2 separate regions of the Homo sapiens genome follow, and region 2 is linked to region 1. The links come from fine-mapping of genetic effects on plasma protein levels. Region 1 holds a variant in brackets. A gene starts in the other region. All regions are shown on their forward strands.

Region 1 (8,000 bases):
ATACTTTTAAAAAATTAAATAAAGAAAACGCTGTAGAAAATTAAGGAGCAAAATGTATGCTTGCAGCTACAGCTTCCTCTGGGGTTTCACACTTCCTTGCCTCATCATGTAACGGGCCACCACTAGGATGAAGGTGCTCCAGTCTTATTCTTCCAATCTTCTCTCCATTTGTCATTCAGAATCCTGGGAAAGAGAGACACTTGTCCTGCCGTGAGTTATGTGCCCACTCTTTTGATTTGTGTTTCTGCCTAGACAGTGCACAGCATGAGTGTTGGCATCTTGAAAGGAAACTGGGGTGCTCCTGAGGGAGAATAGATGCCAAAGTTGGGACAAGAGCCCAGTTTCCTGCCTTTCTAGGTGTAACTCATTGCCAAGGTCGGGAGCAAAGCAAACCATGTAGGAAACCTCATCATGCTGGGTAGTTAATAAGTATGCCCTAGCACACGTTTTCACAGAGAAAACATAATACGCTTCATTTGTAATATTTAAGTATTACATCTAAAGTTACAATGTTTAAAAATTTATATATACCCTTGTTGGATACAAAGCATGTTTAAAATATGTGACCTCATTTGATCCTCAGTAATCTCTGTTAGTTTCTAATTATATTCAGTAGTGGTATTGGTATTGTATGTTTTGGCCTCATTGTGGTTTAAATACACTTTTGTGAACTAGCCTGAGAATCCAACCACCAACACAATGATGTAATGAGAAAACGTGCTCTGAGTTCCAAACAAATGGCTAACAGATAAGTGCTCAGAAGTCAACCTTTTTGTAAGCTGGGGTATCACTGGCCAGCAGTCACATGCCAGCAGGTGTGAGTAGACAGTGGGGAACAATTTCCTCTCATGTGTATGGCTCCCTAAAGTGTTGGCTGAGCATTGTCCACATGGGTGATGCAAAGGATCACTGAACTAGGAGCAGTTGGGAAAAAATACAATCATTGGGAATTCCTGTAGCATCGAAGGTGCCTACAGGGAGGTAGAAGTATTCATACAACAGTTCTCTGGTGTTCTCTGTTGTAGCAACCAGTCAGCCAAAAGGGTTCAGCTGCTTGAAATGAGAATGGCTGGATCAAAATGGCAGCTCAGGATTTAAAGGATTCTAGTCAGATACCAGACATCCTCACATAGAGAAAACTCTGAATGGCTGGGGGAGAAGGAGTCAAATGCCCTGGATCTTTTTCTTGGGCCTCAAAGTCCTCCTTCTGTCATCATCCTTCCAGTATTGGGCAGGACCTGACTGCAGGCATCATGGCCTCTGTGAACTTCTCAAGGGTATGTATTATCTGACAAAAACTACGATGTCCACTAACAGGCCACTGAAAAGGTATCTTAGTCAGTTCTGCTCATTGCCCAGCCAAGGCCTACGTTTTATAACATGATATCAAAGATTGCATCTAAAATTGTGATGATTTCCTAAAATAATCATTTCATTTAGATTTTTCTATTTTAATCCAAGGTATTCTTCAGCGGAAATAAGGAAACAGTTTACTCTCCCACCAAACCTTGGCCAGTACCATCGACAGAGCATAAGTACCTCTGGCTTCCCCTCTCTTCAACTAGTAAGTATGAGTTCCAGGTTTACTTAGCGATTGGTCAAGTGCAAAAGTGCCCAGGGTATGTGTTTGCCTCCTGTTCCTTAGATCTTCCTACCATCACCTCACATTCTCCAGTCACCAGATCCTAACTCTGTGACTGTGTCTGGACATCAGACAATATCCCTCTCTCTCTCTGCCAACCGGTACTTAGGGTACATAATAGAACCTCTGGGAGCTGTGGTTTTGATGTCTCTAGACTAGGTGGGCTTCCAGGTGACTCAGTCTCATCCAAATTATGGTTCATATTTGGGGGAGAAGGGCTAGCCCAAAAACTTACCACCATTTGTAGTATGCATTTTTTTGGAAAAGCATATTCCAAAATCTGAAATGCCAAGTTACAGACCTCCTTTTTGTAAAATAATTTTCTTGCTAGTATAATTTACATATAATAAAATTCACACATTTTAGGTGTACAATTTGGTGAACTTGGGCAACTTAGAGTCACTTAACCTTTCCTCAGTCAAGATATAGAACACTTCTTTTATCCTAAAGCGTTCCCCAGCGCGCTTTTACAATCTCCTCTCCCCAGGCCACACCCTCCAACTCACGCAATCTCTGACTCACTTCTGTCACCATAATTTTGCTCTATCTGGAGCTTCATATCCTGTTACAGTATGTACAAACCTTCTTTTTTTGAGACAGGGTGTCAGTCTGTCACCCAGCCTGGAGTACAGAGGTGTGATCTCAGCTCACTGCAACCTCAACCTCCCAGGATCAGATGATTCTCCTCCCACCTCATCCTCCCAAGTAGCCGGGACTACAGGCGCATGCCACCACACCTGGCTAATTTTTGTACTTTTTGTAGAGACAGGGGTCTCGCTATGTTGCCCAGGCTGGTCTTGAACTCCTGGGCTCAAGCGATCCTCCTGCCTCAGCCTCCCAAAGTGCTGGGATTACAGTGAGCCACTGCACCTGGCCCTAAACCTTCATTTTTAAAACACATTTCCTCTTAAATTGAAGATTGCCTACATTTTTATATCAATGCCAATTGTTGAGTGTGCCTATATGTGTTATATTATTTGAGCACTAAATGCCAGATGTGTGCCAAGTGAGATAAATCTGACAAATGAGATGGTTTGTAAAACCAGCAGTGAATATTCACTTCCTCTGTGAGAGAGCTCCAGCCCTCCTGTACTCACTTCCTCACACAGCACAGCAGCACTCTTGCTGGTTCTGCTGCTTATCTTGAAGAGGTTAGGTTACTTTTTGTTTCTACTTATTACTTCGAAACCACTTCTGCCTTAGAAATTTTGTAACCTTCCGCTCAGTTTCCGGTAACCGCCATTTTGTCTCCTGTAACAATTTACGCGCCGTGTAACTGTGAATCTTTCAAAGGTATGTTTTACTGGAGTGATTTCTGGTTATTTCAGAAGGATAATTTGTGTGTTGCGTCATTAATGAAATAGTAGTACGAAAAACCTATAGCATCTTTTACTGCAGGAGGTAACTTTCCATGCCATTTTTTCAGAAAATCTACTTATGACTTCAGTGGCTTGCTAGACTGGCCTTTTTATTTGTACTTTTCCTGTGTTTCAGAATTGCAGAGTATAATAAAGGCATGTCAAGTGCATATTGTGTCCATTTTCAGGTATATTAGATAAGCTTTACACCAAGATAAATTAGATATGCTTATTGGTTTAATTTGTGCTAATATATATTTAATTGAAAAATCAAAAAAATTTTTTTAAATTGACTGAAGTTGTATTCCAAAACATGCAAAATTTAGTTTAAAATAGATTGGATACACTTTTAAATTTTAAACAAGGTAGAGGGTTTAGTGCTTTGCTTTTTTAAAAAGTAAATGAAGGCTGCAGCTTTCTGCAGTAGTTGTCTTGGGAAGTAGTGTGGACATCACTCCTAAGAGACGTTAAGGAAGTTTAGCTAACAGGCTTTAACCCTTTCTCTCCATACCAGCTTTTACTCTTTTTTTTTTTTTTTTGAGATGGAGTTTAGCTCTTGTCACGCAGGCTGGAGTGCAATGGCACCATCTCGGCTCATCGCAACCTCTGCCTCCTAGTTCAAGCAATTCTCCTGTAGTTCAAGCAATTCTCCTGCCTCAGCCTCCCGAGTAGCTGGGATTACAGGCATGCACCATCACATCTGGCTAATTTTGTATTTTGAGTAGAGACGGGGTTTCTCCATGTTGGTAGGGCTGGTCTCTAACTCCTGACCTCAGGTGATCCGCCCGCCTAGGCCTCCCAAAGTGCTGGGATTACGAGCATGAGCCACCATGCCCGGCCACCAGCTTTTACTTTAATGCCACAGCCTTAAATTTTCTTTCAGGAGAAATTATTTTATGTAAAGTTACAAAGGAAAATAATGCTTAATATCTGTAAGCATTCGTTTGGTAAGTTTGCTGCCTCCTCAGTAAGTTTTGATGAAAGTGAATTTTGATGAATTACTACCTTAGCCGGGTAGTGACGTTAACATGTGGCTTAGCTGTCCATTTTCTAAGATATCAAGAAACCAGCAACAATAAGTAAAATTGTTAAATTATGCAAGAATCACATGTTCCTACCTGTCATCATTTAGTCTTGGTTCTATTTGCATGTGAATATCCTTTAGAATATATTACTCCCAGTTATTCCGCTTTACTTTTCTGAATCTCTTTTCCCATCTCTTGACTTCAACTTCAGTATATGGCTCTTGTTCCTTCTACCTGGAGAACGGAGGCATGTGGAAGCCCAGAGGATTGAATTCTTTTTTTTTTCTTTTCTTTCTTTTCTTTTTTTTTTTTTAGATGAATAGTCTGCTTAGGAAATCCATCTCCATAATGTTTACCTGGTATCGTGTTGTAATGTCAGAATGAAGTGGCTGTTCTTCCCCTTGAGTCATCGTCCCGAATGAAGGTTCCCCAAAAGAAATCATCAACTTATGTGGTGATTTCCTTTTACCTTTAAAA[A/AG]AAAATTTCTTTTCATGGAAAGATAATGGAACATGTCGGTAAGATTCATTTCTAGGAAGGCAAAGGAGTAGTTTATCATCTAAAGACTCTCAACCTAAAGCTGTTTTAGAAAACTTTCCTTAAAATGAGAAGCCGTAGGTTTTCGTTGCATTATTTTGGCTAATTGAAAAATAAGACCAAGTGCGTTCTGACCTTCGTTTCTCTTACCTTTATTTTTACAACCACCATTTCAATGGCCCACTTGCTGATACAAATGATTGTTTAATTTTAAAAAGCATTTAATTGAAGTCAAGTTATTTAGAACCTAATCATTTACACGTCTTTGTTGTTGCTGCTGTTTTGCAAGAGTGAAGAGCTTGGAGTCAGGTGAATCTGGGATGAGGTACAGTTGTCATTTATTAGTCATGTAATTTGTGACAAGCCACTTAATCTCTCTGAAGACTTCAGTTTCTTCATTTGTAAAATTGGCATAATAATGCTGTCCCTAGTAGGGAATATAGAATTATATAATGGGTCCTTTGTATATATTGGCTAGTATTGCTCTCTTACGATTTGGCACTATGGAGACACTGTGGGAGATTAAAAGAAGATGATGAATAAAAGGTGACTTCAGCTCTGAAGGGCTTTATGATCCATTTGGGAGAACAGGTAATGTAGAATATACTGGCTTCAAAAGTGGCAGGTGTTTAGAAGAGAAAAGGATACATGATGTGATAGGAGGCAAAGGCTTGATTGAGAAGGCTGAGAAGACTTAGAGTAAGGGTTCTCAGCCCTGACTGGACATTAAAATTATCTAGGGACAATTCAATCAGAATTCCTGGGGGTGGGGACCAAGCATCAGTATTTTAAAGTTCCCTGGGGACTTTAACTTGAAGCCCAGGTTGAGAATCATTTAAACAGCTCTGTTATTTATTTATTTAAAATTTTAATGTATTTTTTGAGATGGAGTCTCGCTCTGTCACCCAGGCTGGAGTGCAGTGGCGCAATCTTGGCTCACTGCAACTCCTGCCTCCCAGGTCCAAGCTATTCTCCTGCCTCAGCCTCCCCAGTAGCTAGGAATACAGGCGTGCACCACCACAACTGGCTAATTTTTGTACTTTTAGTAGAGACAGGGTTTCACCATGTTGGCCAGGCTGGTCACAAACTCCTGACCTCAAGTGATCCACCCACCTCGGCCTCCCAAAGTGCTGGGATTACAGGCATGAGCCACTGGGCCCGGCCTAGTTTTACTTTTTTTTTTTGTAATGGAATTTCCCTCTGTCACCCAGGCTGGAGTGCAGTGATGTGATTTCTGCTCTCTGCAACCTCTGCCTCCTGCGTTCAAGTGATTCTCCTGACTTAGCATCCTGAGTAGCTGGGATTACAGGCAGCTGCCGCCATGTCTGGCTAATTTTTGTATTTTTAGTAAAGACGGGGTTTCGCCATGTTGGCCAGGCTGGTCTTGAACTTCTGACCTCAGGTGATCCGCCCGCCTCGGCCTCCCAAAGTGCTGGGATTACAGGCTTGAGCCACTGCGCTCGGCCCATTTAAAAAAACTTTAAAGGTAGACGTATTCCAAATGGGGGGAATATATAAAGAAAGGTAACACTTATTTTGCCCTGTGTGCTTTGAATTTCAGAAGGTGTAGTAAGCAAAGACCACTTACTAACCCTACAGATATATCCTTAGAAAATACAGTGGTTTCTGTCATAAATCTGATAAATCAGATGAGAGGAAGGGTGTATGTTTGATGTTGATTTTTCTTTTTGTTTTATTGGGGTTTTTAAAAACTATAAATATCAGGTCTGATGACTATGTGTATAAACATTTTCTAAGTAGATAAAATATTTTCAAATTTTGCATTTTTTAGTATGAAGGGGATCCATCATTTGAAGTTGGTTTTCTAGATGTGATGATAAACTTGTCCCAGGTCTATTTGACACTCCTACCAAAATCCTTTGTGACCAGGGCTAGAAGGCAGCTGTGGCTAGTAAATAACCCTGTGTGTAGACTCACTTATTGGCTTTGGCATTCTCTATTGCCACAGCTGTGTGAATAGATTAACCAGAGACCCTCTGGTGCCAGCCACCTATTCAGGCAAACAAGTCTATAATCAGTACCTCTGTTAAAATGAAACTGTAATATACTATTGTCTTTTCATTTATTTATTTATTTATTTAGAGACAGGGCCTTGCTCTGTCGCCCAGGCTGGAGTGCAGTGGTACAATCTTGGCTCACTACAACCTCCGCCTCCCAGGCTCAAGCGATTCTCCTGCCTCAGCCTCCCAAGTAACTGGGACCACAGGCGCACCATTGCGCCTGGCTAATTTTTGTATTTTTTTTGTAGAGACGGAGTTTCTCCATGTTGTCCAGGCTGGTCTTGAACTCCTGAGCTTCAGTGATCTGCCTGCCTTGGCCTCCCAAAGTGCTGGGATTACAGGTATGAGTCATTACACCCGGCCTATTTTCTGATTGTTCAAAGTAGAAGCCAGGCACAATGGCTCATGGCTGTATGTAATCCCAACAATTTGGGAGGCAGAGGCAGGAGGATAGCTTGAAGCCAAGAGTTCGAGGCCAGCCTAGGCAACATAGTGAGAACTCATCTCTACAACAAAGTTAAAAAGAAAAATTAGCCAGGCATGGTGGCACATGCCTTTAGTCCCAGCTACTTGCGAGGCTGAGGCAGAAGGATCACTTGAACTCAGGAGTTGGAGGCTGCAGTGAGCCATGATTGAGCCACAGTACTCTAGCCTGGGCAACAGAGTGAGACCCTGTCTCAGAAAAGAAAAGAGAAGAGAGGAGAAGAGAAAGAGAGAAGAGAAGAGAAGAGAAGAGAAGAGAAGACATACAAAAGAAGAGTAACATACAAGAGAAGAGTTAGGAGACCCTGTCTCAGAGGAAAGGAGGGGAGGGGAGGCGAGAGGACAAGAGAAGAAAGAGTTAGGATCTATGCCCTAAGGAAGTAAGGAGGATTTGAGACTGTGTAGGTGGTTAATAACCTTAAGCTACATATTTTATGGAGGGAAAAATCCTATTTTTAAAAGTGAGAATAGAACAATTTTGAAGTGAAATGGAATGAATTAGCTGGACCATAACGGCTCTGACTGAAGAAAAGGATGTAAAAAGCCACATCCTGGATATGTACCAAACACCATGGTTACATGGCATGTTTGTATATGTAACATTTATTTAAAAAAAAAGTCTCATAGCTTAGAAGGCATTTATTTTTGTTATGTGTATAGGCTTCTGTGCAATAAAGCAGCCTTTTTTATTTTACAGCTCATGATGACTTAAATGGTTAATTGCCTGATAAATATGGTCCTCTTTTATTCTTCTGATTCTGTTGTTCTTTTGCACTTCATCTTTCAAGGGGTTGGGCTATTCTTAGGTTTCACTGATTGCACTGGAAGGGACATGACGGAAAATGAAGATCTCAAGATAATTTTCTTGCAAATTCACAATGGAAGATAAAAGGAAAGAGTGGCAGGCATTCTGCACACAGAGCAGACGTTTCTTTAT
Region 2 (14,814 bases), not on the chromosome of region 1:
CAAGGGCCCTTCTCAGGGAAGGGCAGGCCAGCAAAAGCAAGCAGAGGAGAGAAGCCGGGTATATCCCCCAAGGAAATGAGTCTTGTGACAGGAAATGAAGTAGAAACAATCTGTCAGGTTCTGGCTCTGGTAGGCCCCGTGTTTACCAGGGTGGATGACAGCCTGATGCCCCGGGACCCCTTTCTCTTCCTCTCTGCCCAGCCCTGGTGCACAGACAGAAGCCCTGGCCTCAGAGATGACCGTTCTGGAGAGGGTGGGGGGATGGCATTTGCCCCTCCCAGCCTCGCCTCCACCTGCCCGCTTTCTCTGCAAATGTGTTTGTGTGTGTGCATGTGGACGAAGGGGGTGGAGACCGAGTTCTCAGAGTTCTGATGGGGTAGGCGGTGGCGGGGACAAAAGCTAGGAGCGGAAGGGAGCTCAGGCAGGAGGCAGGGCACTGGGGGCACAGGATGTGGTCTGGGAGAGAATGAGCTGCACTTCTCCTTTGCAAGATGGCCCCTCCCCGCCACCTCAGGATTCTTCCTACTATCACCCCAGGGAGCCTAGTCCAAGGGAGATCAGGGACCCAAGACTAGGCGACACGCAGCGAAGACACTCAGAAAGAGATGGGAGACGGGAGGGGAAGGCTCAAGGCAGTCCGGGCAGCAAGGCACTGATGCTTTTCGTCTGCTTGGAGGGCGAGGAGAGATGGAGGGCAGGGTATGGGCAACTGTATGTTTTTGTCACTTCCCCTTTCTGTCCCTGCTTGCGGAGAGGGGACAGAGGAGAGAATTCTGGACAAGAGGGACCCCACTTGGCCTAGAACCTGGGCCCTGTGTAGAGAGTGGGGCAGAGGAGGGTTCTTGGGAAGCTGGGATTTCCGACCCCCCCCCAAGCTCACAGGAGCACGGCTGCACCCTGAGCCGGAATGCTGGGGGAGGAGGGGGCCGGGGGCGGGAGCTGGGAGGGGCCGGGGAGCTCCGGGTAGTTTTCCCCAAGAGTCCACACAGGGAGAGACAGCCTAAGGAAGTAAAGAATAACATTTGGTCTTTGTCAAAAAACAACCAAGGGGGAGGGGAAGGGAACAGACAGTGAGTGTCACACAGCTGCTGAGGTCAATCTGGAGTGTGGGGTTAGGTGGGGGTGGGAGGGAACAGGGCTGTAAGGGGCAGGAATGGCTCCTGGAGCTCACTCATTCCCCATCTCAAGTGTTGCAGAGCAGGCGAGATCAGTGGGGAGGTTTCGACTGGTTCTCCCCAGAAGAGGGAAGAGGATGTGTGCCAGTGCCGGCCTGAGTGTTCCCAGGTGAGCAGGCACCTGCTTAGGGAGAAGTAAGCACTATCCTCCAGCTCTGGTCCCCCACCGTGCAGATGAGAGGAGGAAGAGGCCTGGGCTGGGGTGAGGCTTCGGGAATGCAGTCCTCCTCCCTGATCCTGATCCCCACCCCCAGCTGCCGGCCCAAGGTCATAGGCTGCCTCCTGAGTAGCTGAGGCTTGACTCACCTGTCACAGTTAAGTCCCCCACCCCCTACCATCCACAGACACCAGGGTGGAGGGTGCATGGTTGGACAGATCCTGCGGGTGGAGGCGTGGAAGGACAGTCTCTAGCTGGCCAGCACTCCCAGCTAGGAGATAAGATTTCCTTCCCTCCAGCAACGGCCTCAAGTCCCTCCCCCGGGGGAAAGCAGAAACTGAAATGGGAATTCTAAGATCCCTATGAGGTCACAGGCTCCACAGTGACCTCACAGGCTTAGGAAGGAGGAGGAGGAATCTCAGATAAGCCGGTTGGGGATAATAGGCGGAAGAGCTCAGGGAGAAAAGAGTGAGGGGAGGTAGAGATTTGTTTCTTTCCCATAGGCTGGAGAGCTGCGTGGACAGTGGAGAGGGCCAGGACCTTAGGGGGCGGGGTTGCGGCACAGAAAGCAGAAACCTCGGGCTTAGGGGCCAGTCACTGGGAAGGGGGTGCCCGGGGCTGCTCGGATCTCGGTGGGACGGGGGTTAAGAGGTGTAGATGAAGAGGGAGAGAAAGCAGTTATTAGAGGAGCTCGTGGGGACTGCTTCATAGACCGATTGGAGCTGAGGTTAAGAGATCATGTAAATAAGCCAACCAGGTGAGGGGCGGGACCATCCTACAGGTGCGCAGATATGCAAATAAAGAGAAAGGAGGAATCTCTCCCAACGCTCGGAGGCGCAGGGCGTTCTGTGCAAACGAGAAGCACGTTCATTGTCTAGGGGGTTCTCAAAGATGGGAGAGGATGGCTGCAGGTTTAGGGCAATCAGGAGGGGCAGCAACCCTGGCCGCCAGGTGAAGGGGCGGGCCCGACTCCCGGGCCGGGCGGGGCCCGGGGTGGGGCTATGCAAATGAGGGACCCGGTTGGGCCCGGGGCCCGGCTGCACTCACCAGCCTGGGTGATGTCTGACAGGTCGTAGCTACGGGCCGCGCCCCGGGGGAAGTGCTTCAAGCGCCGGTTAGACAGGTTCAGGGTCCCGGTGGCCACGGCCTCCTCTAGGGCCCGCTCTGCACTGCGTCTCCCCGGCAGACCTGGAGACCCGGGCACGGAGGTCGTGGCTGCCGCCTCCTCACCCCCGGCGGCGAGTGGAGCCGCTACGGCCGCCGCCATCCGCTCCCGGCGGCTCCCGCTGCCTGACTGACGGGACCGGCCGTCCCTCCTTCCCCCACCCCCTCCTTGGAGCCGCCGTAGTTGCCTCAAGGGGGAGGGAGCGGTGTCCGGGACCGGACGGACCAATCGTGGCCCCGAGACGCGTCAGAAGCGGCCAATCAGAACCCGTCAGTGGGGGTGGAGCTCCGGCGCCGGAGTCTGACGAGAGAAGGGAGGGGAACAAGGATAGAGCGCTCGCCAACGGCCGACGCTCCAGGCCGTCCCGCCCAGCGCAGCTGCACCCAATCACAATGCTCAGATCGGGAGGTGGAGCCAATCAGGTCCAACCAAGAGGAGGGGACACCGGCACTCCACTAGCAGGAAAACGGGCCGAGGGACCGCAAGCAGGGGGTGCCTAGTCCTCGTCCCCCAAAGACCAATCGTAAGCCAGATACAGGCGAGTGACTGTCAAGAAGGCCAATTAGAGCCTCCGAAGGGAATCTGGACCTGCCTCTTCTCTGAGGGACGGCTCTACCTACCAATAGCATGGGCGAGAAGGCGGTCCCTTTGCTAAGGAGGAGGCGGGTGAGCTAGAACTTTAAGACTGAGGTTAAGAATGAACGCGGAGCCCCTGGCCGGCCGGGAACGCAGTTCGCCGCTGCAGTGGCGAGTGCGAGCTGGACGTGTTAGGGGGCTAGCCGGCGTCCAGGGCTTGAGGGGATTCGGGCGACTGCTTGAGGCCAGTGCACTGGCGGTTGTCGCAGCTGAAGGGGCAGCGGGGGGACCTCCGACTGTGAAGCCTCTGGCAGGGGTCTCGGGACCCCCGGGCTGGGGGCGGGCGGGGGGCTTCCCAGAGCCTGGAGATGCCCAGCTCGAGGAGGGAGGGTGTAGGTGCAGCGTTGCACGGTCTGCCGTCTCACCCGAGGAGCTCCCCTGGACAGGAATGGAGAGGGGACCAGACCACGGGGTTTTAGAGGCTTAGAAAGGATCTCACCGCCTAGAACACGCCCTTGGTGCTACGAATGCAGAAACTGAGGCAGAGGGAAGTTGATGCGTTAGCAAGAGCGAACAGCAAGTTCCTGACAGCTGGCTTGCTCTAGAAACCAGGTCTCTGGATCCTCCACGCACAGCCCTTTCCCGCTCCCTCAGTTTTCACAGTGGATGTTTTCACTCCCTTCCTCTCTTCCTCCCTCCCTCCCTCTCCCTTCCGTTCCCTTCCTCTTTTTATTTTTTTATTTTTTGAGATGGAGTCTCGCTCAGTCGCCCAGGCTGGAGTGCAGTGGCGCGATCTCGGCTCACAGCAACCTCCACTGTCCGGGTTCAAGCAATTCTCCTGCCTCAGCCTCCCGAGTAGCTGGGACTACAGGCGCCCGCCACCACACCCGGCTAATTTTTTGTATTTTAGTAGAGACGGGGTTTCACCGTGTTGCCCAGGCTGGTCGCAAACTCAGGAGCTCAGGCAATATGCCCTCCTCGGCCTCCCAAAGTGCTGGCATTACAGGCGTGAGCCACCGCGCCCGGCCTTTTTTTTTTTTTTTTTAAGAAGGTCTGATTCTGTCGCCCAGGCTGGAGTGCAGTGGTGCAGTCATGGCTCACTGCAGCCTTGAATGCCTGGGCTCAAGTGATCCTCCTGCCTCAGCCTCCCAAGTAGCTGGGACCACGGGCGGCACCACTGCACCTGGCTAATTTATTTTCAATTTTTGTAGAGATGGGGTTTTGCTATGTTGCCCAGGCTGGTCTCAAACTTTTGACCTCAAGCGATCCTGCCTCTGCCTCCCAAAGTACTGGGATCACAGGCGTGAGCCACCGCACCCGGCCCACAGTGGACTTTTTCTTTCTTTTGAGACAGAGTCGCTCTGTTGCCCAGGCTGGAGTGCAGTGGCTTGATCGCAGCTCACTGCAGCCTCAACCTCCCACCTCAGCCTCCCGAGTAACTGGGACTACAAGCACGCACCACCATGCCAGCTAATTGTATTTTTTGTAGAGACAGGGTCCTACTATGTTGCCCAGGCTGATCTCAAACTCCTGGGCTCAAGCAATGCTCCCACCTCGGCCTCCCGAAGTGCTGGGATTATAAGCGTGAGCCACAAAGCCTGGCCCACAGTGGACTTTTTCTATTCACAACCTCTCGTTTGCCTCCTGGGGTGAAATGGAGTGGATAAAGGGGACCCAAATGCAAGAGGAATGGAAAATACCTTTCTGTCTACTTGGAGATCTTCCTTTCTAAGTGGCATGAGTCCCTAATGCAGTCCCCTCCCTATGTGGTAGGTTGCCCAGAAATAAGTCACTGAAGTTGCTTTCTCCTTAGTTCACATCTCAGAGGTTGATATTCCTGAGTAGTTGCTGAAGAATTAAAATTCCATCTCAGGCATCCCAGCCTAGCCATGGCTAGGCACCATACATAAGGGAATTTGGGTGGTCAGTCTGGTGCAGTCAATGAACGGATCTGTGACACTGTGTGGTGAGGGCTGGTGGTCTGGCAGGATGGGACTCCTTTGAGCCCCTGCAAGAGCCAGCCACTCCTTGGATTTATTGGTGTAGATCTGGCCTGAGTGGGACAGACACAACCCTGACCCCTGCTGTTTCTCCTGATAAATGTCACCCCACATAAGACAAAGCTAATATCAGAGACCCTGGGAGAAATCCTAAGCTTTCAGAGGAAATCCATCCCTTTCTCCCACCTTAATAGGTTGTCCTTTATACATGCAATGATGTTACTGTCCCTCAGGAAAGCAAAAGCAGTCTTCTTTTTTGTTTGTTTTTTTTGAAACTGGGTATCATTCTCGCCCGGGCTGGAGTGCAGTGGCACGATCATAGCTCACTGCTGCCTCAAACTGGGCTCAAGCAATCCTCCTGCCTCAGCCTCCTGTGTAGCTGGGACTACAGGGGTGCATCACCACGCCTGGGTAATTTTTAAGTTTTTTTTTTTTTTTAATAGACGCAGGGTCTATGTTGACCAGGCTGGTCTTGAAACCCATGGCCTCAAGCCATCCTTGCACCATGGCCACCCAAAAGTGCTGGGATTTCGGGCGTTAGCCACCGGCACCAGGCTGCAGTCTCCTTTTGGATGTGTTTTTTCACAAGTCTAAAGAGTTTGCTGAATCATTTGTGAGCTAAACGATTATTAGCACAGTCACCTCTCCATCTCACCTGTCAAACTGAGTTTATAGTTTTTTGAGTCTATACTCTTGAGCTACCAATCCCTAGAGGCCTTGGCCTGCTGAAATGTGAGGAATTCACTAGTGTTTCTCTACAGAGTTAGTGCTAAAAGGGCCTCAAATAGGAAAACTTCCTCCTGCTCCCTGAAATAAAGATGTCACCTACCAGTAATTCACACTTTATTTCTCCAGTAAAATGCATATCCCTTGAGCCATGTGATGGCTAGAACTGAGCTAGAACCCAGGAGCTGTCTAAGAGATGGGTCCTGGGCAAGATTAAAGGGAACAGGTCACAGTGGCCAAACAGTGAGGTCACAGAGAGGTTTGTTAGCCCCAGACTCCATGGGGGAGGGGCCTAGGAGGCAGAGGGGCCTCAGAGGTCCCCCAAGCCTAGGCTGGGGACATGGTGTGGGAAAGCCAGCAGGAACGGGGGGGCCAAGGGCCTAGGAGACAGGAGGGCAGGAGCAGGGAGGGGGCAATCAGGATGGTCAGGGGAAGCCAGAGACGGAAGCTGCAAAAATTCACCAGGCTGTGTGGACGGGAGGAGGGGCTCCGGGTGAGGGGGATTGGCCGCAGGAGATCGGGAGGAGTTATTTGGAGAAGTTAGGGATGGGTCTGGAGAGAGAGGGGAGGAAATAACTGTGCCCAGCTAGAGTCAGATGAGCCCCAAGGTAGGCGGAGAGAAGGGAAAAAAGGATGTGGGACCCTCATGGGACCCTATGCACCCCTTCTTGGGTAGGTGAAGAGAAGCTGCCCTTCTTGTGGCTCGGAGCTTGGGGTTGAAGAGAAGAGGGGGAAAGGAAATCCGATTTCCATCCAGTTGTTCCCCCCAGAGCTGGTGAGTCCTTGGGGAGGGGGATTGAGAATAATAGGATTGGGGGCCAGATCACCGAGGGGCCACCAAAGACTCCCCGCTTCTTCCCTCCTCCCTCCCAGGTGGAGCATATCATCTCATTCCTCCCAGTCAGAGACCTTGTTGCCCTCGGCCAGACCTGCCGCTACTTCCACGAAGTGTGCGATGGGGAAGGCGTGTGGAGACGCATCTGTCGCAGACTCAGTCCGCGCCTCCAAGATCAGGGTTCTGGAGTCCGGCCCTGGAAGAGAGCTGCCATTCTGAACTGTACACCTTCCCCAGAACCTCCCGTTCTCCTTGCCTCTGTCCCGCCTTAGCCTTCCTGCTCTCTAAAGTCCCCTGATGACCCCCACACTCCCAACAGTGCTTCCAGGGCCCCTTTCTCCGGAAGAAACGGGTCCAGTTCAAACATTCTCCCTTGAGTACTTCCTCCAAGTCTTCGGAATCCACCCACAGCCCCCGTTAGCGGCCTCCCTGCCAAGTCTCCCTCTGTACACAGACACTTCCCGCTTTTTCCCTAGAGGCATCCCTCACTCCCCAAACCTGGAGTTTTCCCTCCTCTAACCCAAGGCTTCTGAACTCACTGTTGATATTCTGGGCAAAATAATTCCTTGATGTGGGGAGCTGTCCTCTGCATGGTGGGATGTTTAAGCAGCAACCCTGGCCTCCACCCACCAGATGGCCAGCAGCATCCCCCTTAATTGTGACAACCAATGCCCTTGAAGGACAAAATCACCCCTAGCCTGAGAACCATGCCATAAACCCTCTTCCCCTCCAGGGATCCCCCAGGGTGTACTTCTTACACTCACTGGGAGATTAAAAGAGAAGGGGGACCCAGAAAACAGATCCAAAGCTAGGGGTGAGGGAGGATGACCGGCCTTCATCAATCATTCCTTTTCACTCCTGTTTCTGTCTCTTCTCTTTTCTTTCTTTTTCTTTGATTTTTTTTTTTTTTTTTTTTTTTTGAGACAGGGTCTTGCTCTGTCACCCAGGCTGGAGCACAGTGGTGCAATCTTGGCTCAATGCAACCTCCACCTCCCGGGTTCAAGTATTCTCGTGCCTCAGCCTCCTGAGTAGCTGGGATTACAGGCTCCCGCCACCACACCCGGATAATTTTTGTATTTTTAGTAGAGATGGGGTTTTGCCACGTTGCCCAGGCTGGTCTCAAACTCCTGGGCTCCCAAAGTGCTGGGATTACAGGCGTGCAAAAATTCACTGAGCTGTGAGGATGGGAGGAGGGGCTCAGGGTGAGGGGGGTGGATGCCGCACGCAGCCTCTGTGTCTTTATTCTTAGAGTTTTCCTCAACATCACTGATGCAAGGTTGCACCAAAGAACTGCTCACTAAGAAGCAAATGTTTGACCCTGGGCTGAGGTGGGGTGGAGACTAAAGTTCACATGTCGAGTATAATCTAAGCTTATTTTCCACATCTCCTTCATAAGGGGTCTGTTTGTTCCCCTGTCCTGGGGATGGGGAGGAACTACAAACCAGCGTGTCTAAGAAATCTACCCAAGCTCCAACTCATCTCCCTCGTGTCATCTCATCCCTTGAACCTTCCATCTCCTTCCTTCCTCCAGACACGAAGGGCCTGTATTTCCAGGCATTTGGAGGCCGCCGCCGATGTCTCAGCAAGAGCGTGGCCCCCTTGCTAGCCCACGGCTACCGCCGCTTCTTGCCCACCAAGGATCACGTCTTCATTCTTGACTACGTGGGGACCCTCTTCTTCCTCAAAAATGCCCTGGTCTCCACCCTCGGCCAGATGCAGTGGAAGCGGGCCTGTCGCTATGTTGTGTTGTGTCGTGGAGCCAAGGATGTGAGTAGCAGAACCCTGGCAGCTGAGAGCCCACCTGTATTAGTCCATTTTCACACTGCTATAAAGACGTACCAGAGGCCGGGTGCAGTGGCTTACACCTGTAATCCTAGCACTTTGGGAGGCTGAGGCAGGCGGATCAGCTGAGACCAGGAGTTCGAGACCAGCCTGGCCAAATGGCGAAACCCGTCTCTACTAAAAATACAAAAATTAGCTGGGTGTGGTGGTGGGTGCCTATAATTCCAGCTACTTGGGAGGCTGAGGCAGGAGAATTGCTTGAACTTGGGAGGCAGAGGCTGCAGTGAGCTGAGATCGCACCCTTGCACTCCAGCCTGGGCAACAAGAGGGAGACTCCGTCTCGAAAAAAAAAGACATACCTGAGACCGGGTAATTTATAAGGCAAAGAGGTTTAATTGACTCATAGTTCCACATGACTGGGGAGGCCTCAGGAAACTTACAATCATGGCAGAAGGGAAAGAGGCACGTCTTACATGGCAGCAGGCGAGAGCACACAAGCAAGAGCAGGGAAAACTGCCTTATAAATCCGTCAGACCTCGTGAGAACCCACTATCACGAAAACAACATGGGGGAAATTGCCCCCGTGAGCCAATCACCTCCCACTGGGTATTACAATTCGAGATGAGATTTGGGTGGGGGCACAGAGCCTAACCATATCACCACCTCTCTTTTGAGGACCCAGGCCCCCATCAGTCTTGAGGTGTCTTTCCTATGACTTCTGCCCTCCCACATAGGAACCTGAAATCAAGGGCTCATTTCCCAACTCTGGACCCAAGCATTTCACTTCCCACCCCAGGATCCAGCTGCCCCAGCCCCATCCCATTTTGAAACTCTAGATCCCAGACGCCCTCATCTTTTCCCCCAGTTTGCCTCGGACCCAAGGTGTGACACAGTTTACCGTAAATACCTCTACGTCTTGGCCACTCGGGAGCCGCAGGAAGTGGTGGGTACCACCAGCAGCCGGGCCTGTGACTGTGTTGAGGTCTATCTGCAGTCTAGTGGGCAGCGGGTCTTCAAGATGACATTCCACCACTCAATGACCTTCAAGCAGATCGTGCTGGTTGGTCAGGAGACCCAGCGGGCTCTACTGCTCCTCACAGGTGTGGCCCAAAGCAATGGCTTTTGCAAACTGTTTCCTGCAGATTCCTCAGACCCTGCTGCAGAGGAGGGGGAGGGAGGCCCCTCAGACTGGGTTCCATATGCCACCTTATCCTAGTCTCCATCTAAACAGCTCTGCCCTTCTCTGTCTCCTAGTCTAGGATTCTGCTTAATATTTTATATGAATAAAAGGCCCTGTCCAGGTGTGGTGGCTCACACCTGTAACCCCAGCACTTTGGGAGGCCGAGGTGAGCAGATCACCTGAGATCTGGAGTTTGAGACCAGCCTGGCCAACATGGCGAAACCCCATCTCTACTAAAAAATACAAAAATTAGGTCGGGTGCGGCGGCTCACACCTGTAATCCCAGTTTTTGGGAGGCCAAGGCGGGTGGATCACGAGGTCAAGAGATCGAGACCAACATGGTGAAACCCTGCCTGACTCTACTAAAAAAAAATACAAAAATTAGCCAAGCGTGGTGGCGCGTGCCTGTAGTCTAAGCTACCTGGGAGGCTGAGGCAGGAGAATCCCTTGAACCCAGGAGGCAGAGGTTGCAGTGAGCCGAGATCACGCCACTGCACTCCAGCCTGGTGACAGAGCGAGACTCCGTCTCAAAAAAAAAAAAAAAAAAAAATTAGCCGGACGTGGTGGCATGGACCTGTAGTCCCAGCTACTTGGGAGCCTGAGGCAGGAGAATCGCTTGAACCCAGGAGGTGGAGGTTTCAGTGAGCCGAGATTATGCCACTGCACTCCAGCCTGGGTGACAGAGTGAGACTCCATCTCCAAAAAAAAAAAAAAAAAAAAAAATCAGATGTCCCCAGCTTCCATGCCAACCACCTCACTATACTCCAAACTGCTCCCTACTTTCCCAATGTCCTTTATACTCAACCACATCCCCAGGCCTGAGACCCTTTAGGCTTTTTCTTAAAATATTTTTTTCTTTTTTGGAGCAAGGTAGAGATGGGGTCTTGCTATGTTGCCCAGGCTGGTCTCGAACTCCCTGCCTCAAGTGATCCTCCTGCCTTGGCCTCCCAAAGTGCTGGGATTACAGGTGTGAGCCACCACACTTGACCACCTCTAAACTTCTGAATGCCAGGCAGGGCCCTCAATCCCCAGACCTCTCACTCAAATCGGATTCTAACAAATCTGCTAGATTTTTCTCTCTGCTCATCTCTCATGCTGAAGTACTTCCCTGATTTATGGTGGGAACTGGAGTCTGGGGGACTTGGGGTCACTCTTCCCTTATTTCTTTCTCAGCCCCACTCTAGGGCAGTAAATGTGTCACCCATATGGCCTAGGGAGTCTCTTGGGATGTTTATGTGGATATTGGAGAATCCCCTCCCCAACTAATTGCTTCCCCTACCCCCAGAGGAAGGAAAGATCTACTCTTTGGTAGTGAATGAGACCCAGCTTGACCAGCCACGCTCCTACACGGTTCAGCTGGCCCTGAGGAAGGTGTCCCACTACCTGCCTCACCTGCGCGTGGCCTGCATGACTTCCAACCAGAGCAGCACCCTCTACGTCACAGGTATGGACCACCTCCCCCCGGCTCAAGCCCGCAGCCTTGGTTAGACCCTCTAAACATCAACACCCTTCACCCTTACTCCAGCTGCATGGTGAACCCCTGAGGGCATCCTAGTGAAAAGATGTGTTTAGGGCCGGCATGGTGACTCATGCCTGTAATCCCATCACTTTGGGAAACCGAGGCAGGTGAATCACCTGAGGTCAGGAGTTCAAGACCAGCCTGGCCAACATGGCGAAACCCCATCTCTACTAAAATACAAAAATTAGCTGGGTGTGATGGCAGGCGCCTGTAATCCCAGCTACACCAGAGGCCGAGACAGGAGAATCACTTGAACCAGGAGGTAGAGGTTGCAGTGAACTGAGATCGTGCCACTTCGCTCCAGCCTGGGTGACCGAGGGAGACTCGGTCTCAAAAGATGTGTTTTCAGTTCCCAGGCATCATAGTTGATGCATTCCTAGTGGGTATGAGACTCCTTGGATCTTGTAGCTTTCATCCCAGGTGGGGCCTTATCCCTAGGAAATGGGTGCCCAAAGCTGCTGAGCTGAGGGCTCCTGACCCCCCAGACCAGGGGGGAGTGTATTTTGAGGTGCATACCCCAGGGGTGTATCGCGATCTCTTTGGGACCCTTCAAGCCTTTGACCCCCTGGACCAGCAGATGCCGCTTGCTCTCTCACTGCCTGCCAAGGTAGGCTCCTGGAGGGACGGGGCAAACCAGAGGGGTGGCGCTGTAGGGATTGGAAGGTCTGAAGTATTATAGGAATCAGATTATTGATCCAGAGGGGCAGGGGATCCCCAGGGAGAGGTATGCCAAAAGAGATCAGCTGGGGGCTCGGTGCGGAGGGAGGCTGAGGAGGGAGTATCGCTTGAGCCCAGGAGCTCTAGACCAGCCTGGGCAACATAGTGAGATCCCATCTCTAAAATATATATATAGAAAGAGATCAGCTGGGGATGGCAGGTTAGTGGCTTGGAGACTCTGGAACTCAGAGTTCCTCTGGAGGGAATGGAATCCCTATCCCCTTTCTATCTTGCACGCTAGATCCTATTCTGTGCTCTTGGCTACAACCACCTTGGCCTGGTGGATGAATTTGGCCGAATCTTCATGCAAGGAAATAACAGATACGGGCAGCTAGGAACAGGGGACAAAATGGACCGAGGGGAACCCACACAGGTGAGACTATTTCCCAGCAACTCTCATCCCAACCCCTTTCCTCCAATTCCCTAACCCCCAGATCTGTCCACTTCTCCAGATTCCACAGAATCCAATTTCTGTTCCTTTGGGAAGTTAAGCCACTCAGTATGTAATGCCAGTGGTACTACCCCATGTCTTACCCAGGGTTGGCACTACGAGGTCCATTCTGTGCAGTGCACACTGTAAATGCAATAGGAATTTAGTGAAGGGGTAGGGTGGGTGACCTGGGCAGGCTAGAGACTTCTAGAAGAGGTAAGATGTGAGCAGGGGCCAGGTGCAGAGCCTCACGCCTGTAATCCCGACACTTTGGGAGGCCGAGGTGGACAGATCACTTGAGGTCAGGAGTTCTAGACCAGCCTGGGCAACATGGTGAAACCCCGTCTCTACCAAAAATATAAAAAATTAGCTGGCTGTGGTGGCACATGCCTGCAATCCCAGCTACTCAGGAGGTTGAGGCAGGAGATTCTCTTGAACCTGGGAGGCTGAGGTTGCAGTGAGCTGAGATCGTGCCACCCTACTCCAGCCTGGGCCACAGAGCGAGACTCCGTCTCAAAGAAAAAGAAAAAAGATGTGAGCAGGGCATCGTGGGTTACATAAGACTTAGGTAGGGATAGAGAAGGCATTCTGTGTGATGAGGAGGGGGATAGGCACGAAACTTGCACATACCTGGGACAGTGACAAGACGGGTCTCACTAAAGCACAGAAGGCATCTTGGGAATCACTGAGGTATGAGGTGGTACAGGTGGGCACAAGCTTAGAGAGGTGTAGATTTGGGGAAGAGTCACTGCAGGTTCTGGAATAGGAGAAGGCAACCCCCAAGAGGTGACTGAGAATGTGTCAGGAGCCTTGTGCAGAGGAGGCCAAGGAGGGGAGCCCGCCAGGAGGCTGTTGAGTGATGACAGCACTTGAGACAAGCGCCTGGTGCTGCAGCGAGAATGGGAAGGAATGGATACAGGAGCTATTTGGGAAGAAAATGAATAGGGCCTCAAAACTGATTAGATGTAGAAGAGAGGGGTATAAGACAGAGGTGGCTCTGGAAGAAAGATATCTCACACCTGTAATCCCAGCACTTTGGGAGACCAAGGTGGGTGGATCACGTGAGCCCAGGAGCATGAGATCAGCCTGGACAACATGGTGAAACCCTGTCTCTAGAAAAAATAAAAAATTAGCCAGGTGTGGTGGTGGGTGCTTTTAGTCCCAGCTACTCGGGAGTCTGAGGCACGAGAATTGCTTGAGCCTGGGAGGCAGAGGTTGCGGTGAGCCGAGATCGTGCCACAACATTCCAGCCTGGGCAACGGAGAGAGACTCTGTCTCAAAACAAAACAAAACAAAAACCACACTCAATTGGAAACGTCTAGCTGGCAATTAGATTCTACCTGGGAACATGGTTGAACAAACAGAAGTAGAGACTGAAAAGCAACTCTGAGAAGTAGGCCCTGTGGTAGACAGGGGATGAAGAGGTGCCTCTAAGACAGGCCGTGCACCCCTCTAACACTGTCCCAGAAGCCACATGAGAAGGAAGTTCCAAATGGGGTGGGTGGTAGGGTTAATTGATGGTGTGACAATGTAAGATACATTTACTACTGACATGGAAAAGATAGTCATGCCATATTTTTAGGTGAAAAAGACTTTTATGAAATGGTTTACATAGTACCATTTATTTTTATTTTTATTTTTATTTTATTTTCAAGATAGAGTCTTGCTCTGTCTCCCAGGCTGGAGTGCAATGGCGCGATCTCGGCTCACTGCAACCTCTGCCTCCCAGGTTCAAGTGATTCTCCTGCCTCAGCCTGCCAAGATGGGATTACAGCGCCCACCACCATGCCCGGCTAATTTTTGTATTTTTAGTAGAGACGGAGTTTTACCATGTTGGCCAGGCTGGTCTCAAACTCCTGACCTCAGGTGATCTGCACACCTTGGCCTCCCAAAGTGCTGGGATTACAGGTGTGAGCCACCGCACCCAGCCTCTTTTTATTTTTATTATTACTTTTTTGAGACATGGTCTCCACTGCTTCCCAAGCTGGAGTGCAGTGACACAATCGTAGCTTGCTGCAGCTTTCAACTCCAGGGCTCAAGAGATCCTCCCGCCTCAACCTCCCAAGCAGCTAGGACTACAGGAATGCGCCACTACGCCCAGATAAGTTTTTGTTTTTTTTGTTTTTTTTGTTTTTTTTTTTTTTAGAGACAGGGTCTTGCTATGTTGCCCAAGCTTATATTGAACTCATGGCTTTAAGCAATCCTCCCACCTCAGACTCCTAAAGTGCTGGGATTACAGGTGTGAGCCACCACACCTGGCCCCATCCCATTTTTTGTTTAAAAATACACAACTTGCCCATCATGGTGGCTGACATCTGTAATCCCAACTACTCAGGAGGCTGAGACAGGAGGATTGCTTGAGGCCAGGAGTTGAAGGCTGCAGTGAGCTGTGATCACCACTGCACTCCAGCCTGGGTGACACTGAGACCCTATCTCTAAAAAATAAAAAATATACAATTTATGTGTATTTGTTTGTTTAGCCAACAGTGAAGAATATCTAGCAAGATGTTAATAGTAGATGGTGGGATTTCCAATGATTTTAAAATTAATTT

Alleles and levels. Positions count from the first base shown, and alleles are read on the strand shown. Strength reflects both the effect of a copy and how common the allele is.
For the plasma level of the protein whose gene starts at base 2,628 in region 2, allele AG in region 1 goes with a lower level than allele A (weak association).

Evidence for each region. A credible set is the group of variants that fine-mapping cannot tell apart. PIP is the posterior inclusion probability: the model's chance that the variant is causal. Protein levels are from antibody-based Olink assays in UK Biobank. Linkage for the fine-mapping came from a reference panel and not from the study's own genotypes, which makes the PIPs less certain.
Region 2: it holds the start of LRCH4, and the variant in region 1 is the best candidate, but not a certain one, in a credible set for the plasma level of the LRCH4 protein (UK Biobank, PIP 0.53).

Annotation. Positions count from the first base shown.
Region 1 is chr9:270,166-278,165 of GRCh38, forward strand. DOCK8 (dedicator of cytokinesis 8) reads left to right here. Exons shown (of 48, transcript NM_203447.4): 2 at 1,462-1,564. Among named protein-coding and RNA genes, the nearest start is that of DOCK8-AS1, 58 kb to the left of the region's middle. The variant A/AG (reference allele first, on the strand shown) is at 4,503.
Region 2 is chr7:100,583,502-100,598,315 of GRCh38, forward strand. It overlaps LRCH4 (leucine rich repeats and calponin homology domain containing 4), which reads right to left and starts at 2,628. Exons shown (of 18, transcript NM_002319.5): 1 at 2,380-2,628. The coding sequence starts at 2,599. It overlaps FBXO24 (F-box protein 24), which reads left to right and starts at 2,827. Exons shown (of 10, transcript NM_033506.3): 1 at 2,827-3,163; 2 at 6,476-6,574; 3 at 6,673-6,856; 4 at 8,166-8,401; 5 at 9,282-9,516; 6 at 10,882-11,040; 7 at 11,601-11,722; 8 at 12,074-12,205. The coding sequence starts at 3,125. PCOLCE-AS1 (PCOLCE antisense RNA 1) reads right to left here. Exons shown (of 9, transcript NR_038910.1): 7 at 9,324-9,573; 8 at 6,729-6,830; 9 at 5,900-6,581. RefSeq lists enhancers at 103-791, 245-539, 512-671, 937-1,450, 1,451-1,964 and 1 more and silencers at 2,106-2,155, 2,196-2,625, 3,386-3,505.